Homo sapiens: one gene and its partners. The protein of the gene in region 3 purifies or fractionates together with the protein of the main gene of each other region. This does not show direct contact. Each region holds a gene or a part of one and is shown on either strand. Other genes may lie near its edges. The genes, in order: SUCO, CARS1, PSTPIP1, AKAP9, SCG5, ANAPC2 and FDFT1.

Region 1 (4,299 bases), on a different chromosome or scaffold from region 3:
CAGCAACAAAAATTAATAATGACATAGATGAAATGGTTTTTCTGTAAACATAATCTAAGGTTAGTACTCAAGGCTACAAGACAAAAGCAGAGGGGAGACATAATCAAGATCTACAAAATTATGATAGTAAACATAACACAGTAATATTGGTAGCATGAGAGGGGAAACCTCAGAAACTAGAATACTGTAGAACAGACATACAGCACTCAATGTACAAAACAGAAACGGATCACAAAATTTTGAGACAATTTGTGAATAACAAAAGAGACAAAAGTGGCTACTAAAAGGCACTCATCAACTCTTGCAAACGTTTTATCTAACCCTAGGACTTGTTGGTAGCCATTTCTGTTAAAGGGAATGAGGTTGTTGGGAAAAGAAATACCACACCAGATTGCAGCAAAAGTTAGAAATCCATTAAGTGCCATTAATTCCAACTTGGCACAAAAGCAGAGGCTTCAAAGAAAAAACATACCCTTTGCCAATCAGCACCAGGTACCACTCCTCTTCCCCAATCTCATTCATCATCATCACCCTTTAAAAAACCCTTTAAGCCTTAATGTCCTATTTTAATGCCTTTTAATCGTTTTGCTAAAGAATAATTAAAATGTCTCTAAATTTGGCAGTCTAAACAAATCTCAAAATATACTAACCCAATAGTTTCTTAAGCTAAAGTTTCTTAAAATGTTCACACTCTTAAACTCTCCACATCCATTTTCCTCACTAGGAGTTAAAAAACTTGACAGAAGTTTATTACTACTACTTTCAATACCAGGCCAACCGATTTGTTCCCTAACAGGGAAATTCATTAGCTCTTCACTAGAGCTAATGATTGAAGGTGAGAAAACATACTGAGGGTTAGCTTAATCAAAAGATAGCCAGAAATTCCCAAAAGAAATAGAAGCAGAGTTAACTTAAATTTACAAATGATTGTAAGAATCACATTCTATTGCTTGATTTCGTTTACACCATCCAATTAAAAAATTAAAAAAAGCCAGAGATACTGGTGTGTTTTTAAACTTGAATGAAAGTGTTCACCTTTTCCTTATTAGCCATTTCAGAAACTTTTGATGATGAATAACATGGTTTAAAGATGGGCAAGACCAAGAAGAAAGAGGAAAGAAAATACACAGTCTACAAATATAACTAGGCAGCCCCAGAAAGAGATGGAAATGAATACAAGCTTCAGTATCTACAAATTTAAATTTAAAATGAGGTGAGTGGATTTATCTCTTACAGGCACTTCTCCGTACCCAACACAGTAAGTAGAAAGGGGAGGATTTTATTAAAAACAGGAGACGGGTATTAAAAGGATTCAGAATGAAAGGTAATAAGTCAATTGTTTTTGTTCTCAAAAACTTCTATCATTCTTCCAATAAAAATCCCTCAGCCAGGCGAGTGTTTTCTCTTCCCCTTGTTTATGTATTATTTTATGTGAGCAACAACTCTACAATTTCAGTGCTTCTGGAATCCATAAGGCATCCATAAAAATGAAAATAGTGTTGGTGCTTTGCAGAAATAAGCAAAACAGGAAACTTAATTTCTATTTTAATATAACAAACAGCAAATCGCCTAGACTGAAGAAGCATCTTTTCAGTCATCAATTGTCACACATCTTTGAAGAAATTCCCTGGGAGGAAAGAATGGCTTTTCCAAGTACGGTGACAGCAGTCCCTCGACTTACAAGCTTTCTCTGCTCCTCAAAAAACTCCAGAAGTGCCTGGGATTAACAGAAACTCCGTAAAACTTAAGGAGTGCTTTAGGGACAAAGCACTCTTCCCGCCTTGAAAATACAGCATTTACCTTCCCGTCACTAAGGGGCATTACCAAAAACTACTACACACACTACATCTAAGACACCCTCTCCACCAAACCAATTGAAAAAGTGCTTCATAACACACATACACACACGCCCCCCAAGTTTCCAAAAACAGCGGCCCGAGTGTACTTGGGATCAAACGCTGTGCGAGAAATGTCCAGGAGAACTACTGCTTATACATTACTCTTACCTTCATGACCACTCACGTTTTAAAATCGCACGTCCGGAACGCATCACATCCGACGTGCTTTATCCCCTTACCACACTAAGAACGCAAAGACTGGCGGCAAATCGGAGCAACTTACTTACCATCAATCTGAACACCCACCCCAAACCCTGCACCGTCTCCAAGGGGTAGAGGAACTGAGTACAAAGGCACTTGGTGGTTCCCTCTACCTTGGCACCTCTCTCTCTCCCACTGAGTCTCTGTAAATTCCAAAATACACCATGAAAATCTCCGCACAGAGCACTACCAGACCAGTCAGATGGAGAGTCGAGAAGTAATCGGTTTGTCCCTTCCACGGGGGCCTTGGAAACCCGGACCCTAAAAGCCAAAATGACCAGGGGGTGTGACCTGGGCTGCTCCCTCCCATTTACTCCCCTCACGGGAACTCCCTTGTCGTCGCGGCTACTCACCAGACCAGAGAGCACAGAAAGAGGCAGGAGACCAGGGCCAAGGCCCGCCGGTGCTTCTTCATCTTCTCCTCCTTCTTCCCCCTGCCAGAAGGCGGCACATCCTCCCGGCAGCCGCCACTGCCGAGGCCAAGATGGAGGAGCCGGAGCAGGAGCGCGAGAATGTGACCGATAGTCCTAAGGGCTATGGCGCTGGCTGAGCGGCTCCTCAGTGGCTCGCGTCCTGGCAGCCCTCTCTGAGGGCCCCACAGAGGCGCGGACAGGGGCGCTTCACAGGACTCCGGGGACCGCCGCCGCTGCAGCCACCGGCTCGTCCACGCCCGCCTCCTGCAGCCGCCACTGCCGCCCCATATCCTCCCCGCCCGCCGGGGGCCTTGCTCCGTGAGGCCAGCGACCAACGGCCGCCGCGTACTCGCCTCTCAACAGCCAATCGCCGGCGGGGCCGCGACACCTCACACACCGCTGAGCTGGAAAGGGACGCGTCACCCAAGTCCCGCGGCGCCCGCACCCCCACCAGCCTCTGCGCAGGCCACGCCCCCTTCGACGTCGCAGGCGGAGAAGCCGGAGGCAGGAGACCACAAAGCGCAGGAGCAGATGCTCTCGCCGCTCCGCCCGCCCCAGGTCCCGCCCACTTGCTGGCTTGCGTTCAGAAAGCCGGGAGGAGCCCAGTGATCCTCAGCATTTCCCCTTACAGTGGACCGCCCTTCGTCCCTCGCGCGCTGAGTCCGCGCAAGGGCCTTTGGGAGTTGTAGTTTGCCTTCCAGAATTCGTTTTTCTCTTTCCCAGTCCCTCCTAGAATCCATGGTTTTGTTAGAGAAGTCTATAGTTTCGCTGCTCACCACGAGACTGATCAGCTTTGGAACTGTTGCACTGTTTTCCTCTTTTGAGCACAGTTCGTGGAATGGCCTAGAATGACGTGTGTGTTGTGAGGGAAGCTGCACCAAGCCCTTTCCCTGTGGCAATGGACTGCCCCATTGAGCTAGATGTTGATTGGTAGATAGAAAGGGGCGTGCCAAGAATCCTCTCATCTGATTGGTTGCAGCGGAAAACCTTTCGCTTTTTCTTCTCTTCAGCAAGAATTTCGCCGCTTGCCGGGTTCCTCACTTTAAGTGTGCTTCGTTGCTTTTCGTTCTGTTGGTTTCGAACTTTGGGTTCTCTGCGATGGAGTCGGAAGGGAGGAGTTGTCCCCATTAGAGGAGCACCCACAGACGCTCCAAGTCCTGGGGTTCACCTAAAGTGGGGAAGGCAGTCGCTTACACTCACCTAAGAAGAGCAAAAAGTGACCACTTCTCAATACTAAGTAACGGGGCAGCATGCCCATTCCAAGTGTTTACGCCGCTGAGGGGACGGAGGCTGCAATGGTCTGTGCCTTGGAACATGGCATAATGTTTAGTGTGAAAAATGTTTAAAGGACGGGTTACTTATTGTTCATGTGGCCGTAGGGAAAAAACCCTCAGTAAAATGCCCACCTAACGCCTAATTTTGAGCCGCGGAATTTCCTTATGAACCTTCTAAGTTGAATTGGATGTTAATTATAGTCCCAAAGAACTGAATGATTTGATCCGCTCTGTGATTCTTGGATATAAGTCAATTTGATGTTAGAGAAATTATACAAAGGGTGATAATTTTTGTTTTAAAGGAGTTCACCCTGAACTGCCTTTTCTGGCAGTAATTAGGTACAGTTCCACTTATCTGCTGATGCCACTCTTAGTATATGACAATAAAATCCTTTCATCTGTCACCTATTGCGGGAAGCAAGTATTTATCTCACCCAAAAACAGTATCAAATGATTAATATGCAAGTTTAAAAGAAAGTAGGGGCAATGAAAGGGTAGGGATAAATTGACATT
Region 2 (3,500 bases), on a different chromosome or scaffold from region 3:
CATTGACTGAAGATGCCATCCCCACTTGACACACCATGGAATGGGAGTAAAAACCACCAATCCCAGCAAAACATGGCACCTATGTGAACCAGGTCCTGACCACACACACTCTAGGCATGAGACACGCCCCAACTGCACTCATGTCAGAAAAGAGAAATGTCTACCCTCCGCCATCTTGGAGGGACCTAGAGTCTCAATGCACTGACGTGGACCCAGGACAGGGCGTGACACCAAGCAGATGGTCTGTGGCCTACTATGGGAAGGGGAGGCAAAGAACCAAGGCTGGAGAGAAAAAGTGTAGGAAAATGGCCTGGCAGACAGCAAGGACACAGGGTGGACAAAGCCACAACACAGACAGAGAAGGGGCACAGGGCCCACGTGGGCCAGGTTCCTGATGCAATCCCTGCCTACAGCTCCTGAATCAAACAGATGTGTTAAATGTATTGCAGGCCTGCAAGTGGCAAGGCACGTCTGCAGGAATGAGCACACCCTCCCCACCGCGGCAGGGCATCCAGTGGGCAGACAAGCACCAAAAGCAGGGTGTGCGCTCTGGGGAGCAAAGGCTGCCAAGTCTGCTGCCCGAAAAGCAAACACTGGGCCTGCCCCAAGTACAGGGAAACGCGCATCCTGGCCCTCAGGATCACCAAGGTCACGACCCAGCAAGAACCGACATCCTAATCGAGGTCACCAAACACCCAAGAACATGAGCAACTGTGAATGGGAGTCAGCAGAAACGACAAACAGATGGACGCTTCAGATGGAGGAGTTATCAGATACATAATAAAATCCAGTAAATATTACAGGCTTAAAGACATAAGGACGGACTCCCAGATGACAGGCAATAGCAAGCAGGGACAGGCCAGCAAAGCGGCCCAGCTGGATCTGAAAATAGAAGCAAACGGAACCTGCAGAGATGAAATCTATTAACAGGCGAAACAGTCTTATCCATCCTACTGAGTGACTGTTTCACTTCCTGTCTGAAGGAGAATTTGTGAACAGGAAGACAGAACTGAAGAAGTCATCCAAAATGAAACAGAGACAAGAAGGAAAATTTTATGAAAGACAGGTTAGGAGACACGGAGAAGGATGAGATGAAATGATGAGACTCACATCTAATTGGCAACCCAGAGGAGAGGAGAGAGGGAATCGAGTAAAGGTGATACTTGAAGACACATCTGAGAATTTCTCAAAACCCATGCAACAATCCAGCCCCGGGAAGCACACAAAATATCCAATAGGATAAGTAAAAACAAATCTCTTACAATGTCTTTGTGAAATAGCAGAAAACTGAAAAGAGAGAATACTTTTATAATGCGCCTGATAGAAAAGACATATTTACCAATCAAAGAAAAGTAATTTGAAGGGCAGCCGATGTTTTCAACAACAGCCAACAATGGAAGCCAGAAGACGGCAACCACCTTGAACAAACAGGGAAATATACACACTTCAAGATAGACAAAAGCTGCTTCCCACCAATACTTCTAAGATAATGTTTCTAAAACTTGCCTGATGATAGGGCTGGAATACTCAATGTTGCTGGTCAAGCATACAGATCAACAATCAAAATGCATAAATACAAAATGATAAGAGACTTCTGCTTTCCAGTTTCACATAAGTCAGGAGCTTGGAAGTTGCCACTCTACCTAACAACAGGTAAAAAGCTGAATAAACTGAAAAACCAACTCTTCTTAGATCCATAAGAGAAGTTAGGTCATAGGGCAAACCACTGCCCCCTAAACTGGAGAGACCAACAGGAGAAGACAGACAATCACAACTTACCAGAGCAGAGACTCATAAGCTGAAAATTCTGTGGGAACCAGTGTTGGGGGAGGAAAACCAGGACTGTAACAGAGATTGCTGCAGGCTTGGTGTAGGCAAGTCAGACAGTTGAAAACCCCAGGGACCCAGTCATAGGGGACCCCATACTTTTGTGAGTTTTACCTCTAGGAACCTGACCAGGCCTCACAGTGAATATTGGAGAAAAATCCCCTTGTGTTTCCAATAGCAAGAAGGGAAAGGAAGCATTCCAAAATATACCAGTGCACTCTGTTCTTTTCTTTCTCCTTCCTTCCTTCCCTCCCTCCCTCCCTCCCTCCCTCCCTCCCTCCCTCCCTCCCTCCCTCCCTCCCTCCCTCCCTCCTTCCTTCCTTCCTTCCTTCCTTCCTTCCTTGATGGAGTCTAGCTCTGTCACCAGGCTGGAGTGCAGTAGTGCAATCTCAGCTCACTGCAACCTCCGCCTCCCGGGTTCAAGCAATTCTCCTGCCTCAGCCTCCCGAGTAGAAGGGATTACAGTCACGTGACGCCACGCCCAGCTAATGTTTGCATTGTCAGTAGAGACGGGGTTTCACCATGTTGGCCGGGATGGTCTCAATCTCTTGACCTCATGATCTGCCCATCTCGGCCTCCCAAAGTGCTGGGAGTTCAGGCGTGAGCCACCGCGCCCGGCCAATAACTGGTAGGTCAGAAGTATAGGTAACAAACTACTACTTTCAACTGGCATCTGAATTGGGGACAGTCTTATGGGACTGAGCCCTTCAACCTGTCAGATCTGACGCTTCCTCCTGGCAAACTGTGTTGGAAATGAATTAAATTTTAGGACTCCCAGCTGATGCCTGCTAGAGAACTGACTGGTTGTCGGGGCAGAGGTGGGCTGGGTGAGGAAGAAATCCCTATGCATTTTGGTGATCAGAGGTGAAGTATTCTGTTTAAAAATTTTTTCCGATCTGAAATGGCTGCAACACTGTAGGATTCCAAGTATGTGACATTCTGGGAAAGGCAAAACTACGGAGACAGTAGAAAGACTAGCTGCTGTCAGGAGTTGGGGTGGGGAGGAAGGGATAATAGCTGGAGCACAGAGGATGTTCAGGGCAGTGAAACTATTCTGTGTGATACCGTAATGGTGGATACGAGATAGTATTTGTCCAAACCCATAGGATGTAACAATCCTGAGAGTGAACCCTAAAGTAAACCACGGACTCAGGGTAATGACGCTCAGAGCAGGTTCGCTGACTGTAAGAAACGTACCCCCTGGTGGGTGCGGATGCTGGGGGAGGTGACGGTGAGGTGGGTAGGGGATATATATAGCCTCTCAATTCTGATGTGAACCAGAATCTCCTCTAAAAAAAAACTTTTTTTTTTTCTAAAAAGTGAAAAAATAAGGAGAAACAGACAAATTCATCATCAGAGGGGGAGTTTTGTTTTGGTTCTTGTTTTTGTTTTTTTAAGAAACTGTATGAATAGGCTAAGCCAACAGGAAGAATTAGCAAAGACACACAAAATATTAACCACACGGCCAACAGGTATAGCTAAGTGGATGGCATGTGGAACTGTGCACTAGGGGATTAGACGGAATCTTCTCAAGCACAAGAGAACATTCAGAAACCAGCACACACAGGGGCCACAACACAAGTCTCTGTTCACAGATCCAGATTGGGACAGACCATACTCTCCAACCACTGGGTAATTAAGTTATAAGCGAATAACAATAAGTTAATATGAAA
Region 3 (3,500 bases):
CAGAGCCACTTCCCTGACGGCCTGCCCTCTAACCAGGCCTCAGCTAAGCCCATGGGCCCACTTCTTCCTTTGAGGAGGGCTGCGTTACTTTCCCATCACTGATGAGGAAACGGAGCCACAGAGTGTGTCAGCAGCCAGCCCATGGTCAGACAGCTGGGGGGTGAGGAGCTGACACCGGAACCCAGGTGTGTCCCCTCCTGGACCCCTGTCTCTGGCTACATCTCCATCCTTGAAGCCCATGCTGAGCCAGTGCTGCAGGGGACTTGAGCCACCAGTGGAGACGCCTGTCACCTGCCCCTCAGGACTTCAGTGGAGGCCACCCAGGCTGGTGCAGACTGCGCTGCAAATGACTGAGGATGGATGGCCTCCTGTCTCCCCTGCCCAGACCCTTTCCAGAACTCAGACCCTCGGGCTTCCTCCCTCACAGAACCTGGCCTCACCCTGAATGCCCAATAACCAGGCACCAAGGAGCAATCCAGACCTACCCTGGTTCTGCCCAGCCTCCCCCATGCCAGGAAGACCTAAACCTCATCTAAAGGCCCAGAAACTGCCAGCAGAGGAGAGGAGTGAGCCCCAGGGCCCGGGAGATCTTACTTGATCTCCGTCTGGCCACCTGCCTTCCGTGCGATCTGCACCAGCTCCTTCCCGTACCGCTCCTCCGCCTGGGCCCTGCAAAAAAAAGGGCATTTGAAAGATCATCAGTGACTTGCCACCTCTGGGGGAGGCCCAGGTTTGAGGGAACACAGAAGAGTTTTTTAAAGCAGGGCGTGTTCTGACAGAGTTTGGCTGGGATGGGGGCCTCGTCCACTGTCCCAGGAGCCGAGCGGAAGCCACCTGCTTCCTGCCTGCGCTCCCCATGGCCTGCCCAGCAGCTCACCTCTGCCTCAGTAGCTCCTCCATGTCTTTGCACATCTTCCTGCCATCCAGAAGCCGCTGCAGCAGCACCTCGTAGCCCGTGTGGGCTGTGAAGTCCCTGCACTGTGACACAGGACAGAAGGACACATGAGGGCCACGACCAGGCGACACTGAGCACAGCCCTGTGGGGACCCTCCCACCATCTCTGGGAACAGCCTCCCTCCTGCCTCCATCTCCCCTGCTCAGGGCAAGCTCTTGGGACTCCAGACCTGGCTTTACACAGGCACACAGGAGGTCCCCTCACATCTGCAGAGGTGACAGGTACATAAGTGAGCCCCACCCAGCTGACAGGGCCGGGGGTGCCGGGCCTGGCATCTGGAGAGCTCACAGGACAGGACACACATCAGCATGAGATAGCAGATGGGAAGAGCCACCCTTAAGTCCCCCTGATGACAGCCAGGCCTGAAATTCACTCACTCACAGTGCCACCCTTCCAATATCCCTATCTCAGCTAAGTGGGGAAACCGAGGTGTAGGAGGGTGACATGTGATCGTATCCAGAGCGGCCCAGCTGGAAAGTGGCTGGCCTGGCCTTGAACCCCAGGCTGTCTGGCTGGGGTCCCTGCCCTTCACCTCAGCACTGTGCAGTCTCCATGACCATCACAGCAATTGCGGTTTCTTGGGCACCAGCCATGTGCCAGATGCTGCGCTGGGCTCTCTGTGGGCTCAGGAAACCCCCCCTCACGGAGATCCAGGGAGGTGGGCATGGAGGGTGACTTCAGTCCAGGTCAGAGCATGCGCAAGCACACCCTACATTCACCTCTGGACTGGGGTGGGGTGGGGAGCCTCAGAGAACTCTCCAGGGACAGCTACCCTCTGCTGCCTGGCACTTGCCCTGCTTGCCCTGGCTGTTGTTCCTGGCCAACCCAATTCTCCTTTCTCACTGTGCAGTGGATTCCAGGTGTGTGTCTGAGCTGCTGGTGTGGGAAGCTGGGTGTGAGAAGTTGGGGGAGGGAGGTAGTCTTTAAGGACTATGAAGGAACAGAGGTCTCCCAGGACATTCCCAGGCTTGGGGAGTGGGTCCCGGGGCCAGGATCCCCGCCACAACCCCCTGAGCTCTCCCAGGCACTGCACGCAGGCTTACTCCAGGGGAGCTTGAGAGGTGCTGGGGAGACAGGATTTTTGTCACCAACTGCACCAAGGCAGGCCTGACATTCCGCACCTAGTCTGTCTTCCTTTCTATCCCTGAGGACCCCTAAAGCCTCAGAGACTGGAGGAAGAAGTCCCAGCTCCCCTGACCACACACATTACAGTCTCCAAGGTCACGCACACTCCAGGGTCGCACACACATGACTCAGGTAAAGCCTGGTACTCCTTCCCCTGACCCATGTCTCCCCTCAAATGCCACCTTAGGGGTGTGAGGGGAACAGGGATGGAGTCGAAATCCAGGAGAGCTCTCTGCAGGAAGAGGCATTTGAGTCAGGTGCTGGAAGGAGAAGGTATTCTCCAAGGTCTAAGAAGAATCTGAAGTAGGGGTAGCAATGGCATAAATTGCCCCAACAGTGCCCCCCCTCCCCACAAACTCCAGCCCACCCTCAGCAGGTGGACTCTCCTGGCCTGTAGGACACTTAGGACCCCAAGCTCCTACCCCCTCCATAAGCATCCCTAGAAATTCCTGAGGAGGGCCTGGTCCAGGCTCAGCTGTCCACAGAGCAACAAGCAGCGTGTCTAGCCTGGAAGGCCAGAAGCTGTCCCCCCAGCCTCAGAGGCAGGCGCCCACCCCCATGTCCAGGTTGACATCACTGGGTTAGCTTGGACCAGGCTTCCATTTCTGTGGTTTTGGTGGGCAGCTGCTTGCAGCCAGCAGCCCTCCCCTTCCCACCCCTCAGCCTCTGCCCTCACTCCAGACCCTCAGGTCAGAGCTCCTGGCGGCTGGGAAGAAAAACAAATCTGGGGCCTCAGCCTCCTGCACCTGCCCGGAGGGACACCAGCATTCATGTCAGAATGCCACAGACCCCCCCGCCCTGAGAACTGGGAACCACCTTGTGCGGCTTCCCTCACTCCTCAGGAAACTGAGGCCAGAGAAGGAAATGGCTTGCTTGACGCTGCAGAGTCAGGACAAGAATCCGGACTCTCAGGGGACCTGTCATTCCTTCCTGATACCTCTGGAGAGGCCACCTGGAGCCCAGCCCCACACCCAGCCCTGACGCCAAGGGAACCCTTCTCCTGTCCTTATGGAGGCCCCCAGAGTGGAAAGAGAAGCAAACCGAACCTACGCTGGCCATTCGGGAGGAGTCAGAAAGCAGCGAGAGGCCCTGCAGGCTGTGACCGCCGTGCTCAAGTCCCCAGAGGCTGCAGGCTCCAGGATCCCGCCCAGTCCCCCGCTCAGAGCTTTGGGCTGCTGGCAGGGGCTGTGGCCGAGTGAGCTACTGTCACAAGGACTGGGATGTTCCGAGGAAGTGCCTGACTCTCCAGGGGCTGCTCACGATGCCTCCCAGCCCTGCACCCCTTCCCCCAGCCCGCGCCCTCCTCCTTCACCCCCACCCCTGCCACTTCCTCGAGGGCATGGGTCTGACTCCGTGCTCTGAGCTGGGACAGTCAGGCTCAGGATGTGTTTAGGAAATGAATGAACCAATCATCCTGTAA
Region 4 (3,500 bases), on a different chromosome or scaffold from region 3:
TCCCAGAACTTAAAGTATAACAAAAGAAAAAAAAGGAATATTGTACTAGGAGTTTAAAACTTGCCTTGATAATACACCTACTTAGAAAGATCAAGTGCCTTAATGAGTTGCATTTTGGTTTGTCATCTACAAAATGAATTAAACTGATTTTTTTTTTTTAAAAAACCACACAATGTTGAAAAACACATATTATAAAAACCAAATACCTCTTTACTTCTCAGACACTGTATCACTGCCTTCAAGGTACCACATTCCTCTTTCAGTAACTGAACGGCAACATAGTGTTCCCTCTTTAAGGTTTCAGTTTCTGAAATATGTCTGGATTCCATGTCCAAAATTTCAGCAGCATGTAGTTCTTGCATCTTCTCAATTTTTTCAGTAAACTGACTGATTATTTCAGTAACTTCTTCTGAGGAACATTCACTCTGTAAATTAATTTGTATTCCTGCATTTTTAACAAGAATTTGTGGAGTCTGATTGCTGCTACTGATCTTCAGAGTCCCATCTGTCTGGGATGCAATGCTCTTACTCAGTTTTATAGGAAGTGGCTCAAACATGCAGGCCTTTTTGCTTTCTTGTACCTCAGTCTCATCTTCTTTTTCTAAAATGGACAATTTCTCTTTTGCCTCTGCGAGGTGATCCCTAACTTGGCTTAAGTCTTTCTGAAGAGATGTCATATTTGTTTCTTTTACCTAAAACGTAATGAATAGAACAGTAGGGCATTCAGTTAAAATCTTCCCATATTAAATGTAGAATTTAAAGGGTGTGGGAGGAATGTAATTCATGATTATACGTTCATTTTCCTCAGAGTAGTAGGAAAAACATTTCAGAAACGCTCACAGTTTACATATATATATTTGTATGTACGTATGGTCATAGATTACTATAGAAATGAAATAATTTTATTAGCTTCTATTTTTGGTTCTCATGGGATATACAGTTCTCTTTAACAACTTTCTACTCCTTCATTAACAGAATGGAAATAAAAAGTATCCTCCTAAGAAAGATTTCCAGGAAAACCAAGCAAGAAGATGTTGGTAAAGAAATTTATAACAATGAAAGTTTTCATCAAATCCACAAAATACTTTTTATCTAGCTTTTAAGTTATGGAGCTCATTTGTTATAAAAGAGTATATACTTTGAAACGTAATTAAGATAGGTAGAAATGAGTGAATTAGGAGCTATGTTACTTATCTTACCAAAAGCTCTTCTTGAAGTTTTTCAGCCTTTTCTTTATAACTGGCAAGTTCTGCTTTGGTAGCCACTGATTCAGCTCTAAGAGCCTCGAGTTCATTAAAAAATCCACTTTCTTCATTGCTATGAAATAGCTCAGTAGTTGTCTGAATGACAGCGGAAACACAAGAAACACATAATTTAAAAAAAATATAGCTAAATTCAAGGCTCTTATACATTCTAATAAAACCATCCAAGGAATGACTGCCTACAGATATAAGGAGTTGGAACAAATCAATGCTCTTTCCAAAAACAGAGAAGCTTTTTCAGAACCATCATCTTATATTCTTGAGACAATGATTTTCTTCTTGAGAAAAGAATGATTTTCTGGGAATAAAAGGTAAGTAATGTTATTCATATACATCCTAAAATGGAAAGTTACATTACTATTTTAGGCCAGGCACGGTGGCTCACGCCTGTAATCCCAGCACTTTGAGAGGCTGAGACAGGTAGATCATTTGAGGCCAGGAGTTTGAGGCCAGTCTGGGCAACGTGGCGAAACCCTGTCTCTACAAAAAATACAAAAATTAGCCAGGTGTTGTGGTGCACACCTGTAGTCCCAGCTGCTCAGGAGGGAGAGGTTGCAATGAGCCAAGACTGCGCCACTAAACTTCAGCCTGGGCAACAAAGCAAGACTCTGTGTCCAGGAAAAAAAGAAAGTTATATTACTATTTTAATTATCTATAACTTAAGTAACTTAGTTCCAATGAAGGAGGAAAAAGCCAGGGAATTATTATTCTTTGCAAAATATATAATTATAGAATTGTGATTTATCAGTTAATCTTCTGGTGTTTGGAGAAGACTGAAGTTCAGCTACTCAAAGTTATAAATTTATAAGGTGAGAATTTGGAGGAAAAAAAAGCTCTTGTCCTATCTGTCATATGCTAAGAAATAACTGCGATTTCAGATCTTCTCATAAGTAAACTTACAGAGGTCAACTACGCATTTTTACTTAAAACAGATGAAATCTATTATCAGGTATAAAATTTGTAAAAGCTGGCCAGGCGCAGTGGCTAACACCTGTAATCCTAGCACTTTGGGAGGCCAAGGCAGGCGGATCACTTGAGGTCAGGAGTTTGAGACCAGCTTGGCTAACATGGAGAAACCTCGTCTCTACTAAAAAAAAAAAAATATATATATATATATATATATATAAATTAGCCGGGTGTGGTGGTGCGTGTCTGTAATCCCAGCCGCCTGGGAGGCCGAGGCAGGAGAATTGCTGGAAACCCAGGAGGTGGAGGCTGCAGTGAGCTGAGATCACACCACTGAACTCCAGCCTGGGCGACAGAGCGAGACTCTGTCTCAAGAAAAAAAAAAAATTGTAAAATATGTCACCCACACATTAATTAATTCAGTAGATGCTATTAAATAATAGATTTCTTTCTGTAAAGTCTGCATTCTTTGTCAATCCTAACATATTTTCATACTTATTATTACTTAAAAGGAATGATAACATAACATGCATATTAGAAGCAAATTAAGAAAAAAATCCCCATAAATCCTAGAGAACATTTGCTAAAATTAATGTTTCTTAGTTTCTTCTGACTGCTCCATTTAATGATGATGTTAATGAAATAAATATCATATTTAAAGACCATAAAATACAGTCTGTATCCATTATTTTAGTGATAATAATATGACTACACAGTGTTAAGTTAAATTTGGCCTGAGGCTGTCTCTGTATCTTGAGTTCCTATGTAAGGAACTACAATCTAACTTAGGAGTACGTAAGCAAACTGAAAACGTATCTTAGGAGTATAATAAACAGCCAACTCTTAGCTAATGACAAGCAGTCAACTGAGCAGACTGGGTCCAAATAAGGCAAACACCTAACTGTAACTAATCAAGCTATTTCTGTATTTTATTTGGTAGTTCTGTCTATAAATATTCACTGGCCACTGTTGCACAAAAGAGATTTGTGAAACTCCTCTGGTTCTGAATGCTACCCAATACGTGAATCCTTTTTTGTTCAAATAAACTCTCGTAAATTTAGTTTGTCTAGTTTTTCTTCTTCTTTTTTTTTTTTGAGATGGAGTCTCGCTCTGTCACCCAGGTTGGAGTGTGCAGTGGCGCGATCTTGGCTCACTGCAAGCTCTGCCTCCCGGGTTCACAGCATTCTCCTGCCTCAGCCTCCCGAGTAGCTGGGACTACAGGCACCCACCACCACGCCCGGATAATTTTTTGTATTTTTAGTAGAGACGGGGTTTCACCGTGTTAGACAGGATGGTCTCGATCTCCTGACCTCAAGATCCACCCGCCTCGGC
Region 5 (3,500 bases), about 44 Mb from region 3:
CCAGAGACTTTAAGGATTGAAGTTCAAGGTGGACAAAATGCAACCCCAAAGGCATGGGCCCATTGGGCGGTCCCAGTCCATTCATAGATGGCCTACAAGCCCAATGTTCTCATTGGTTCCTCCAGGGTGAGGATAACCTAGAAACAGATTTTAGTCAAGACACATAAGAGTCAGCTGCACTGCTTTCTCCAACTGCAGAGAGAGACTAGCCAGAAACGGAGTGTCCCCTACAGTTCAAGGTTTGCTTCACCCCGCCATCCTCAAATGGGAAGCAACTGTTGCCACCCTGTGGCAAAGCGGAGGCACTGCAGCTCCTTTACCAAGGCCAAAGCTTGGCAGAGTAGAGGCTCCTAGGATCTGCCTCTTCAAGTAGCCTATCATCCACAGGACTCTTTCTCCACTTGATATTTATTAAGAAAATAACCTTGGGTCTCTATTTCTAAGTGAAAAATTTGAAGTCCAACAGTCAGTGTTATAAAAAAGAACGTATTTTATTTTATTTTATTTTTCTGAGACAGAGTTTCGCTCTTGTTGCCCACGCTGGAGTGCAATGGGCGATCTTGGCTCACTGCAATCTCTGCCTTTAGGGTTCAAGCGATTCTCCTGCCTCAGCCTCCCGAGTAGCTGGGATTACAGGCACGTGCCACCATGCCCAGCTAATTTTTTGTATTTTTAGTAGAAACGGGGTTTCACCATGTTAGCCAGGCTGGTCTCGAACTTCTGACCTCAGGTGATCCGCCCGCCTCGGCCTCCCAAAGTGCTGGGATTACAGGCGTGAGCCATCGCGCCCGGCAGAACGTGGGTATTTTAATGTTTGGCAATATGGATTTAAAATTACTCAGAGCCATCAAATGCTAATGTTTATACATTTCTATCTTAATGGCTAGATAACTGGTGTTATCACAGTGCTAGATAGCTGGTGGCCTAGAACTGTGGGGAAAATGAACAGCTGGCACTGAGCAGCCTATCTTTTACCTGAAGCTGTTAATGTTCTGAAAACGAAAGCACATTTTCTGGTTGGATTCATCCAAGGCCATCCAAGGCCATCATCAGTGTCAGCTGGCACAACCAGTTCTAACTCCCAAGAGCTCCCATCTCACAGCACATGGTTCTCCGAATCAGTCCCCTGGACAGTTGGTGGCTTTATTTGTTTCTGGGGATAATACAACAGTAGCCATTTAGCTATGTCTTGGAGACCAGTGAGCAACCGTGGGCTTGGGAGAAGATGGTTACTGCTGAAATATATGGTGCACTGAAGCATATCTGAACTGTATTGCTAACTGATGAGTAATCAAAAATAAGACTGGGGCGCCGGGCGTGGTGGCTCACGCCTGTAATCCCAGCACTTTGGGAGGCCGAGATGGGCGGATCACGAGGTCAGGAGATCGAGACCATCCTGGCTAACATGGTGAAACCCCGTCTCTACTAAAAATACGAAAAAAAAATTAGCCAGGTGTGGTGGCGGGCACCTGTAGTCCCAGCTACTCGCGAGGCTGAGGCAGGAGAATGGCATGAACCTGGGAGGGCAGAGCTTGCAGTGAGCTGAGATCCCGCCACTGCACTCCAGCCTGGGCGAAAGAGCAAGACTCCGTCTCAAAAAATAAATAAATAAATAAGATTGGGGTAAGCCATTAAAGACTGAAAACATGTTGTTGATAATCCACAAAGTGAGAGGAGGAAGGCCTGCAATTCAGTTACTAATGGCACCCACTGATTGCATGTAAGAGTGGGCTGGAAACCCCATTTTATTTTATTTTTATTTTTCAAACACCAACTCGAACCAGACAAGCCCATTTTATTTGGGCCGATTTTATTTGAGAGAACTAGGCTTAGAAAGTTGCCAGGATTACACATAGCTAGAAAATAGTACGGCTACGGGTTAACCCGAGTTCTCTGCCATAAACATACACACTCTTTTTTTTCATGTAATGCCAAGTAGGTCCCTGTTTGTCTTTGTGTTTTTATTTGCTTTGGACTAAGAATTTACACATTTGAAAGATGCTCCTTACCAAGCTGTTTTTAAGGCGCCCACGGAGAAGTTAAACATAACCCCCAATCCTCTCTGGATGTTTTGGCAAATGCTTCTACCCCAGCGACCACTTAAAGCTATTAACGACCAGGAGGCTGGCTACCAGGGTTCAGGAATCTTCCAAAATAAACTTCTAGTCTAGTTGGCCCTCTGCTGGTTTAGTCCCAGGACTGCAAAAAGTCCTTCTAGCTCCTTGGTAGGCGCTGTACAAAGGGCACAAACCTTGCACCATGGTGATCACAGTCATAGTCAATTCTAGATAACAGACATTTTTGCTCACCACATTATCACTAAGCTCATGGCAAGAACCTCTAGGCAGAGATTTTTAAAAACAGAATAGAAATGGAATATTTTCCTTGAACTAAAAGGCAGAAAGTCTTGACAGATCCAGATGTAAAACAGTATTTACATACTTATTGCCATTAGGTATATTTATTTCCCCCTGATATTATACATTAATTCCTCAAATATTTACTGAATGCTTACTATGTGCCTGGAATATAATGCAGTTAATAAGCAGATATAGCCTCATGGAGCTTACATTCCAGTGGAGAGATAAACAATAAGCAAGAAAACAAACAATGATTATAAATGACAAAAAATGCTATGGAGCTTTAAAAAAAAAGGCTGGACATGGCGGCTCACGCCTGTAATCCCAGCACTTTGGGAGGCCAAGGCGGGAGGATCACGAGGTCAGGAGGCTAACACGGTGAAACCCCGTCTCTACTAAAAACACAAAAAATTAGCCGGGCGTGGTGGCGGGCGCCTGTAGTCCCAGCTACTGGGGAGGCTGAGGCAGGAGAATGGCGAGAACCCGGGAGGCGGAGCTTGCAGTGAGCCGAGATCGCACCATTGCACTCCAGCCTGGGGGACAGAGTGAGACTCTGTTTTTTTTTTAAAAAAAAAAAAGGAGACTGCAACAGAGAATGTAGGGGGGTGCTACTCAGACAGGGCAGTCAGGCAGCCCTCTCTGAGTGGGTGACTTTGAAACTCGCTACACAAGGAATGGGAGGTTGATAGCCTCCCATTGTTGATCCCATCCAATGTGTTGATAGCCTTGAGGTGGGAAGAGGCCGGTGTGACTCAGGGCCAGAATGCGTGGAACAAAGTAGGGAGTACGATTGACTGGAGCTGTGGATCCTCGTAGGTCATGGCAAGAAGGGTTATTTTTATTCAGGGTACGATGGGAAGCCACCAATGGAATTGTAACTACGGAGATGACACTAATATGGTTTAAACTTTTCAAGTTTAACTCCTGAAAAAAGTTTAACTCCTGTTCTTCCTGTGAAGAACAATCGAAAAGGGATCAAGAATAGAAGCAGGAAGATGAGTTAGGAGGCGATTTCAAAACTCCATGCCAGACATGATGGTATCTTGGACCAGGGTGTTTGGAGTAGAGCTAGAGAGAAGCAGACAGGAAATTGCACATGGATTTTAGAGATAAAAATGAAATAAATTACTTAAAATTGAG
Region 6 (4,277 bases), on a different chromosome or scaffold from region 3:
TGCCCAGTCCCTCTGGCCACCAGGGCACAGCCTTCGGCAGAGCCTCACTGCCAGAGACGAGGCGTGTTGGCCTAGAGGTCATTCGCCAGCCTCAGCAATTCCAACCGAACCCGCACAACGTCCCAACCTCGCCCGAGACCTCCTGGCCGAGCGTGTGGAGGTGGGCACAGGCTGAGCAGAGGGTGACCCCAGGGCTCCTTCTAAAGGCCAGAGGCGCAGGAATGGAGCTGGAGGTCTGGCGGGTAGCAAGCACTAAGCCCTAGGACGTGGCTGCCTGAGCCGTGGCCCGGGCGTGACGTGGACCTTCACGTGCCGCTCCCTGAGCACCCTGGGTCGGGGGCGGCCCGGGATTCTCTCAGGAGGCTACATTCCCAGTGCAGATGTGTAGGCCTAGGTGGCCCCTCACCTGCTGCTGAGGAGCAGGCCCTGCCAGGCTGAGAGAGAGGCCCAGGCTAGAGGAGGATCCTGGGGGGCCCCACAAAGCCACCAGGACAGAAAAGGATGATCTGACTTGCTTTAATCTGCACACTGCGGGGGTGGGGGTGGGCATGCTCCTCAGCAGTGCATTCTGGGACACGGGCGGGCGGGGGCTGGCACGGGAGGACGAGAGCACCTGCAGGGCAGCGCCTGGCGGGCGGGCGGGCGGGCGGGCGATGTGTCAGCTGCAGTTCTTGGGCAGGCGGTAGACGCCGGCCGAGTAGACGAGCTGCTGGTCCCGCACCTTCTTCTGCAGGTAGCCCTGCAGCTCCTGCAGGTCAATCTCGGCCAGTGCAGGCCCAGTCACCACAAACATGCGGAGCATGTTGTAGATACGATCCAGTGAGAGGCTCTCCAGGTTGGTCAGCATGGCCTGGATGTACGTCCAGAAGAGCTGCGGACACAGGCCAGCCCCCGTCAGGCACCTGCAGGCCTCGCCCCCGCCCCCTGGCCCCCCGTGGGGCCTGCACGCGCACCAGCAGCTCCTCCTCCTTCTGGTCGGCCTGGGAGGCCATGCCGGAGTCGCTCTCGTCGTCACTGTCAATGAGCACCATGTTGTCCCGGTCCTGAGGCCGCTCCTCCTCAATGACAGAGAAGGTGCCGGGGGGCTCCTCACGCAGCACACCCTGCTGCAGCCACACGGACATCCGCCGCCGCAGCAGCGCCACGGGCATCTTCACCGCCTTGCTCAGTTCCTCCAGGGTCCAGCTGGCTGCGTGCAGAGTCACCGGGACGCTGGGCAGCCTGGGCACGGGCTGCACCTCCCCTGCCTCCCGTCAGCCGAGAGGTCGGGGGGCTCCCGGGCCACCCTGCCTTGCCCGTGGGAAAGGGAAGGGTGCCGCCTGCTGGCGCAGCTGCCCCAAACCACACCCTCACTGGGGAACAGCCCCTCACCCACAGCTGGGCCGTGTGGCCGGGGCAGGCCAGCTAGGGGCTGGTGGGCTCACCTTGGTCCTGAAAATACAGCAAGATCACCGCCTGTACTGGGGTGACCGCCACAGACAGCGTGCGGTCGGCCAGCTCCACGTCCATGGTCACCAGGCCCAGGGTGTGCTTCCAACTGAGGGTCCGCATGGCCTAAGGAGGGCCAGGGTCAGCACGGGCAGCTCGGCTGCAGGGCGCTCAGGCCCGTGGGCTCTGCCACCTGGTACCAGTGAGAAAGGGGCTCCCAGAGCCACCTGCCCCACCCCACCCTGGCAGGCAGGTGAGCAGCGAGAGCACAGGACTGGGTGGGGTCCCCACCTGCTCAGCCACCATGGAAGGGCAATGGGGCCAGCATCATAAGGTGTGTCCCGAAAAGGCTACAGGGGCCTCCTGACCCCCAGTGCTTGGAAATGTGGCCATATTTGCAAACAGGGTTGATGCAGATGTAACTGAGGTGCATCCTAACCCAACTGACTGGGGTCCTTCTAAGAAAAGGAAAGATAGGAAGACACAGGCAGGCGGGGAGGGGGCCACACGAAGACAGAGACCACCTGGAGCAACGCGGCCACAAGCCAAGAAACACCAAGGGCTGTGGCAAACACCAGAAGCTGGGGGGCAACGGAGGTCTCTAAGAGGGTTCAGAGGGAACGGGGCTGCCAGTACTTTCATCTTGGACTTCCAGCCTCCAAAACTAAGACAATCTATTTCTGTTTTTTAAGCCACCCAGTTTGTGACACTTTGTTACAGCAGCCACAGTAAACGAACAGATTTTGGTACCAGGAAGGGCCAGGAGGGGTGCTGCCAAAACCTAACACCAAGAACTGTGGCAGCAGCTTTGGAAGTGGGTGATGGGGAGAGGCTGGAAGAACTGGTGAGGCCTGCACGACTGCTGGTAGAAAGGCATGAAGACAAGCCTGGAAATGGCTGGAAGAGGAGAGCTGCCGCCGTCTTGGAGAATGCACACAGCATCACAGACTGGATGTCGGCAGCAATGCCGACCCAACAGGTGCTTCCAGTGAGGTCTCAGATGGAAATGACCGTGCTACTGGGAACCGGAGGAGGCAGCAGAGAGCTTGGCTGGCTGCTGCTCTGCTGTTGGGTGCGAAGTGGGACCTGCAGCTGATGAGCCTGGACATCAAGCTGAGATTTCCAAGCAGTGTGGAAGGTGCCACCTGGCTTCTCCTTGCTACTTATAGCAGAATGCAAGAGGGAAACAATCAGTGAGGCAGGGACCATTAAGCAAAAAGGCACCAGCCCTTGGGGATCTGAAAAATACTCTATCCAGGCAGCTCTGAGACGTGGCCAAGGGTGTGGCTGGACCAGGGTTTGCTAGACATGAGGTGTGACCTGTGTATCCAACTAACCATCTCAGCAGCAGACAGGGACAGGTGGGGCCTCCGGGAAAGGGCTGCGGACCCGCCTGTCTGAAGGCTTCGGCACTGGTGAGCTGCATAAGCCAACAAGGTGTGAGAATTTTACACCCGCAGAAGTGCTGCCAGGCTGGAGTGAAAGGAAGGCAGGCTCCAAGAGCAGAGCCGCCGAGGCCAAGGCTGACGGAGCAGGGGGCCAAAGAGGATTCGCAGGCCTGGAAGTCAAGTGGAATTTCGGCTGCTGGGTTTGGACTCGCTGTCCTTTTTCCTCCCAGTTTTCCCTTTTGGGGTGGGAATGTGTATGCTTGTCTTACGGCTGAACTTTTGAAACAGATCATCTGTTGGCTGATTTCACGGCGTCCCAGCTGGAGGAATGGCGCGCACTCCAGCCTCACCTGTACCTTGTTTAGATCTATTTACGTAGAGGAATGGCGCACACTCCAGCCTCACCTGGACCTCGTTAAGATGCATTTACAGGCTGAGATGTGTGTGGAACTTTGTGTGGATGGTAGTTAGATGAGATTTTGGACTTGGAGTTGATGCTGAAATGGTGAAGACTTTTGGGGACACTGGGGCTGTCACTTGCACGTGGGAGGGGCCCACCATGGGGCAAATTGTCATGCACTGAATTGTGCCCCTCGAAAAATGACACATGAACCCCTAACTCCCGGTGCCTCTGATGAGATCTTATTTGGAAATACGGTCATTAAAGATATAATTAAGATGACGTCACCCTGGAATAGAGAGAGTGTTCTTCTAAGAGGGAGATAGGAACAGAGACACGGGGGAACATCACGGGCGACGCGGCAGAGACCAGAGCGAGGCACCCACAGGCCCCGGAGCTCCTGGAGCCCCCAGAAGCTGGAAGAGGGGAGGAAGCAGCCTCCCCTAGAGCCTTCGGAGGGCCCTGCTGACCCTGACTTTAGACTTCTGACTTCTGTAAAATGATATGTTTCTTTTAAGCCCGCTGGTTTGTGGTACTTTGTTCTGGTAGCACTGGGGCACTGACACACCTGCTCTGTGGGCCAAGGGCTCCTGAGTCCTTCCAGGATCCGGCAGCTTCTAATGGAAACAAACCCCTCTTTATGGACAGAAAATGGAAGTGGAGTCAGTGGCTTGCTAGGTCCTAGTTCTGGCTCCAAGGCCATGACCTCCACAAACGCCGCCACTGGTCAGCCTGCCGCAGGACACATGCAAGGGCTCAGGGGTGACGCTGTGGGCTGCATGGCCAGCCACGTGTCCAACAAGGTCGCTCGGCCAGGAGCTCTGCTGGTGGGACCTCTCAGCACAGCCCCGGGGCCTCCCTGAGCCACTCCTGTGTCCCACTGAAGTTAAGACAAAGGGCACTAGAGTGTGGCTGTCCCAGCACATCAGGCCTGAGCAACAGGAAGTGGCTGAGTCATGCCTGGGACCCAAGGCAGGACCCTGGAGGGAGGCCATTGGGGCCTTGCCTGGAAGCAACGCTGGAGAGCCTGAGGCAGCCAGAGGGGCAGGGGGAAAGGGACC
Region 7 (3,500 bases), on a different chromosome or scaffold from region 3:
AAAGAATCAACCCAATATGCTAGAAATAGAAATGCAAAGTTGGATAAGGGAAGCCGAGAAATACACGACCTGCTCACAGGCAGGTTCAGCTGCCAAGACTAAAAAAAGTTAATAAACATCACCCCCTCCCCCCTCTTCTCTGAAAGGCTGGGCCCGCAGGGACTCTACTAGATGGCAAAGAGCCTGGAAGGGCTTTCTAAAGTAAACACGTAGGGCCGGGCTATGTTCTGGATAAGCCACAGCAACGAGGCTGCAACGCTGAGCGCTATATCAAAAGGTAGCTTCCAACACACTCAAAGGTCCCGGACAAGCTTTCCTCCAAGCCAGAGGCGCTGCCTCCATCACTCACCGCATTTCCCCATCCAGCGCCTGGATAACAGCTGCGAAACTGCGACTGGTCTGATTGAGATACTTGTAGCAAGTTTTCAGGCTGCTGCTGAGCGAGTCCTGCGGGCAGACAACACACACGGCGGTGGGAGACGTCGAGGAGCAGGAGTGGGAGTGGGAGTGGGAGTGGGAGTGGGAGTGGGACTGGGGCAGGCGGCTCCACAGCCTGCCGCCCTCTCCCCGAGGCCAGTCCTTGCAGGGCCAGGCGGCAGGAGGCAAGCAGCAGCCCCGCGGGGCGGTGCCTGCGCCCGGGCCCCTGGGCGCCGCGGCGGGACTCAGCACCAAGGTGCGCTTGAAGAGGGCCATGGCCTTGGTGCCGCAGGCGGCTGCGGCCATGGGAATCGCGGACCCCGCGGAGTTTTTCCTCCATAGACTCAAGCAGATCTGGGAAGCGCCCGACGAGGGGCGGGACGGGCTCGCCCTCTACTCGAATACGCGCTGGGCCGACCCACAACGGGCCCGCCCCGCAGCCCCGCAGCCCCGCCCCCGGCCTCCCGCTCCGCACCGGCGCCTCCTCCCGCTGTTGCCCTTCTCACCAGAACCCACTGGCCGCTAAGGGAACCCAGCGCACTTCCGAGCGGCTCGCTCGTCCTCCCAGTGACAGAGTCTCCCTAGACCAAACTCTACTCGGGCTCCGCTGAAATCCTCTTCCCAATAAGGCCTGGACTTTGTACTCAACGCATCTGTCTTTGCATCGCCCAGTTTTACCAAGAATCCTGCTAAATTGATTTGACCAGAATCCCCCAACTTCAGTATCTGATCACCCTAGACAGCCGATTAGGTTCCACATCCCCCTCCATCCCTCAGGTGATGTCTGATAACTCTGGCCTGCCTTCAGCAAGAATGCACACCCCTGTGTTTCCTCGTAATAATTTTCCATCCACTGACATCCGGCTCCCCCGCCATCAATTCCTACTTTTCTTTGTATTCGCAGTGGAGCAGTTCTGTACCGAGGTCTCTCTCCTCTTACTGCAGTAGTTTTTCTGAATAAAATCTGTTTTGCCGTTTTACTACCACTGTCCAACCCTGGTTTTTCTATGACACCTATTAAGCCTCTACTATTCTCTAGAAAGCCAGCCATTCCTTTCAAGATGTCTTCTCATCTTTCCCTTCGAAATTAATGCAATGCAGCGCACTGACCTTTACTCTTCCCTAAAGCAAACAAGGACTGTGTTTTTCCAAAAGGGAGAAAAAGCCTGATTTTAAATGCAAGCATATCAGAAAGAGTTGCTGTTTGTACTATGTATTTTTTCATGGACTATTTTTTAGAGCAGTTTTAGGCCCACAGGGAGTGGAAAATACGGCGGGTTCCTATTTGTCCCTTCCCTCCCCTCACCCCACAGTCTTACAACAGTTCTTTTTGGGAGAGACTGGAATCATTTATCCAACAGGGCCGGGTGCAGTGGCGCACGCCTATAATCCCTGCACTTCGGAAGGCCAAGGTGGGAGAATCACTTGAGCCCAGGAATTTGAGGGCAGCCTGGGCAACATAGTGAGACCTCGTGTTCATAAAAAAGTTTTTAAAAAATTTTTTAAAAAGCCAGGTGTGGTGGCGCCCACCTATAGTCTAGCTACTGAAGACTAGCTACTCAGGAGGCTGAGGTGGGAGGATCGCTTGAGCCCAGGAGATACACGTTACAGTGAACTATGATATTGTACACTGCAGAGTGGGACCCCATCTCAAAAAAATAAAAAACAAATATCCAATAGGAGTGGTTAAAAAAATATGGCATATCCACTTCTAGGAAATTCCATAGTCACTTCAGAATGGTAACAGTGAACCCTGGGCTCTGGTGGGAGGTTTAAGTGAACTATGTTGTTTTTATTTGTATATATTTCCTATCATGAATACGTATTTTGCCAAAAGGGTCAATCTTTTAAATCACATAATCCTGAAAAAGTCATTTTATTGCCATAAAAAATATTAGTAAAAACAAGTATTTACTGGGCACCATAATATTAGTAAACTTCAGCGTCTGGCACATAAATATATTCAGAAGTGGTGTCATGAATAAATGAAGACATTCATCGAGGATTTTAAAACAATTCACCAACTCCTTCCTTCTCAAAATATCGAGAGGCAGGATTTCAGAGTGAAAGAAACAGAATACCCGCTCTGGACTGAGCTCCAGAGCAGCTCTTCACATAGCCTGACCATTACCAGGCTACAGCAGGAAGTGTTTTTAACTGCACTGCCAAATGTCATGTTCAGTCCAACTAACAGTTTCGGGGTGATGTTAAGCCAGGAGTTTCAATCAATGCCAAGACACGGTCCCCCTAGATTTAAACCCCAACACTCTTCAAGAACACTACCCCTCCTTTCCATACAGCCCTCCATTCTGAAAGAGAGCAAGCCAAGCCACTTACTCCTCCAGCTCGTACCCCTGCTGCTCTTTTTCCTGTCACCTATTTGTTTCAGTCCCTTACCTTGTAAACAGGTTTCTTCAAATCACCAAGAACAAAACAGGAAGACACAACTAGTAAGCATACTATGGAAAACAACACTCACTAAAAATTTCTACTGCTTGATTCCCATGAGCCAGGGGAGAAAGCAAGCTCAGGCTACTGGTGCCTGTCCCTCTTGGGTTTATCTATTGCAGTCTGAGATTCAGCACACTCCCAAAAGCTCGCAAGCGGGAGAAAAACAGGGATGGAGGGAATTTAGAGGAAGGGTGTGGGGGTGGTCAGGAAGACGACAAGACCAGACTCCCAGGAAGGGGCTCCAGCCTCAGGCTGAAAGTTCCACAAGTGAACAGCTACCAGCTACCAGCCCTCCACGGAGCCTTCCTCACTTTAAAATAGAATAGATTTCTCCAGGAGGGGAAAAAAACCACAAACTTGAGAACTGAATTTACATAAATTTACATAATCAGATTGATAACCACCATTTATCAAGCACTTAACTCCATGCCAAGCACAATGCGGACATCACCTGTGATCCTTACTCAATCAACCCTTTAAGGTCTCACAGGCCCATAGTCCACTGAAACATCTGTGGCAAGACCTGGGGCAGAATTTAGCATTTTTAGTGTTTTAGAAAATAGGCAATAAAATGCATATACAACCCTAGTCAGTGTGAAGTAGCACCTCATAATTATTTCTTTAGCAAAACA

The links.
Region 1: the proteins of PSTPIP1 (region 3) and SUCO purify together in Homo sapiens (co-immunoprecipitation; one large-scale study listed by IntAct). This does not show direct contact.
Region 2: the proteins of PSTPIP1 (region 3) and CARS1 purify together in Homo sapiens (affinity purification with mass spectrometry, with the first as the bait; one study listed by BioGRID). This does not show direct contact.
Region 4: the proteins of PSTPIP1 (region 3) and AKAP9 purify together in Homo sapiens (co-immunoprecipitation; one large-scale study listed by IntAct). This does not show direct contact.
Region 5: the proteins of PSTPIP1 (region 3) and SCG5 purify together in Homo sapiens (co-immunoprecipitation; one large-scale study listed by IntAct). This does not show direct contact.
Region 6: the proteins of PSTPIP1 (region 3) and ANAPC2 purify together in Homo sapiens (co-immunoprecipitation; one large-scale study listed by IntAct). This does not show direct contact.
Region 7: the proteins of PSTPIP1 (region 3) and FDFT1 purify together in Homo sapiens (affinity purification with mass spectrometry; one large-scale study listed by BioGRID and IntAct). This does not show direct contact.

What each region holds. Positions count from the first base shown.
Region 1 is NC_000001.11:172,531,651-172,535,949, reverse strand, and holds the start of SUCO (SUN domain-containing ossification factor isoform 1 precursor), read right to left. Parts: upstream 2,801-4,299; 5' UTR 2,774-2,800; coding exon of another isoform or gene 2,515-2,773; coding exon 2,453-2,514; intron 1-2,452. UniProt on the Homo sapiens protein: Required for bone modeling during late embryogenesis. Regulates type I collagen synthesis in osteoblasts during their postnatal maturation.
Region 2 is NC_000011.10:3,029,924-3,033,423, forward strand, and holds part of CARS1 (cysteine--tRNA ligase, cytoplasmic), read right to left. Parts: intron 1,654-3,500; exon of another isoform or gene 1-1,653. UniProt on the Homo sapiens protein: Catalyzes the ATP-dependent ligation of cysteine to tRNA(Cys).
Region 3 is NC_000015.10:77,015,626-77,019,125, reverse strand, and holds part of PSTPIP1 (proline-serine-threonine phosphatase-interacting protein 1), read right to left. Parts: intron 979-3,500; coding exon 878-978; intron 670-877; coding exon 595-669; intron 1-594. UniProt on the Homo sapiens protein: Involved in regulation of the actin cytoskeleton. May regulate WAS actin-bundling activity. Bridges the interaction between ABL1 and PTPN18 leading to ABL1 dephosphorylation.
Region 4 is NC_000007.14:92,080,362-92,083,861, reverse strand, and holds part of AKAP9 (A-kinase anchor protein 9), read right to left. Parts: intron 1,341-3,500; coding exon 1,200-1,340; intron 693-1,199; coding exon 207-692; intron 1-206. UniProt on the Homo sapiens protein: Scaffolding protein that assembles several protein kinases and phosphatases on the centrosome and Golgi apparatus. Required to maintain the integrity of the Golgi apparatus. Required for microtubule nucleation at the cis-side of the Golgi apparatus.
Region 5 is NC_000015.10:32,648,210-32,651,709, reverse strand, and holds part of SCG5 (neuroendocrine protein 7B2 isoform 1 precursor), read right to left. Parts: intron 1-3,500. UniProt on the Homo sapiens protein: Acts as a molecular chaperone for PCSK2/PC2, preventing its premature activation in the regulated secretory pathway.
Region 6 is NC_000009.12:137,174,284-137,178,560, forward strand, and holds the end of ANAPC2 (anaphase-promoting complex subunit 2), read right to left. Parts: intron 3,834-4,277; coding exon of another isoform or gene 3,785-3,833; intron 3,499-3,784; exon of another isoform or gene 1,555-3,498; coding exon 1,425-1,554; exon of another isoform or gene 1,233-1,424; coding exon of another isoform or gene 1,190-1,232; coding exon 954-1,189; exon of another isoform or gene 872-953; coding exon 659-871; 3' UTR 501-658; downstream 1-500. UniProt on the Homo sapiens protein: Together with the RING-H2 protein ANAPC11, constitutes the catalytic component of the anaphase promoting complex/cyclosome (APC/C), a cell cycle-regulated E3 ubiquitin ligase that controls progression through mitosis and the G1 phase of the cell cycle.
Region 7 is NC_000008.11:11,805,741-11,809,240, reverse strand, and holds part of FDFT1 (squalene synthase), read right to left. Parts: intron 1,299-3,500; exon of another isoform or gene 924-1,298; intron 774-923; exon of another isoform or gene 724-773; coding exon of another isoform or gene 448-723; coding exon 350-447; intron 101-349; exon of another isoform or gene 1-100. UniProt on the Homo sapiens protein: Catalyzes the condensation of 2 farnesyl pyrophosphate (FPP) moieties to form squalene. Proceeds in two distinct steps.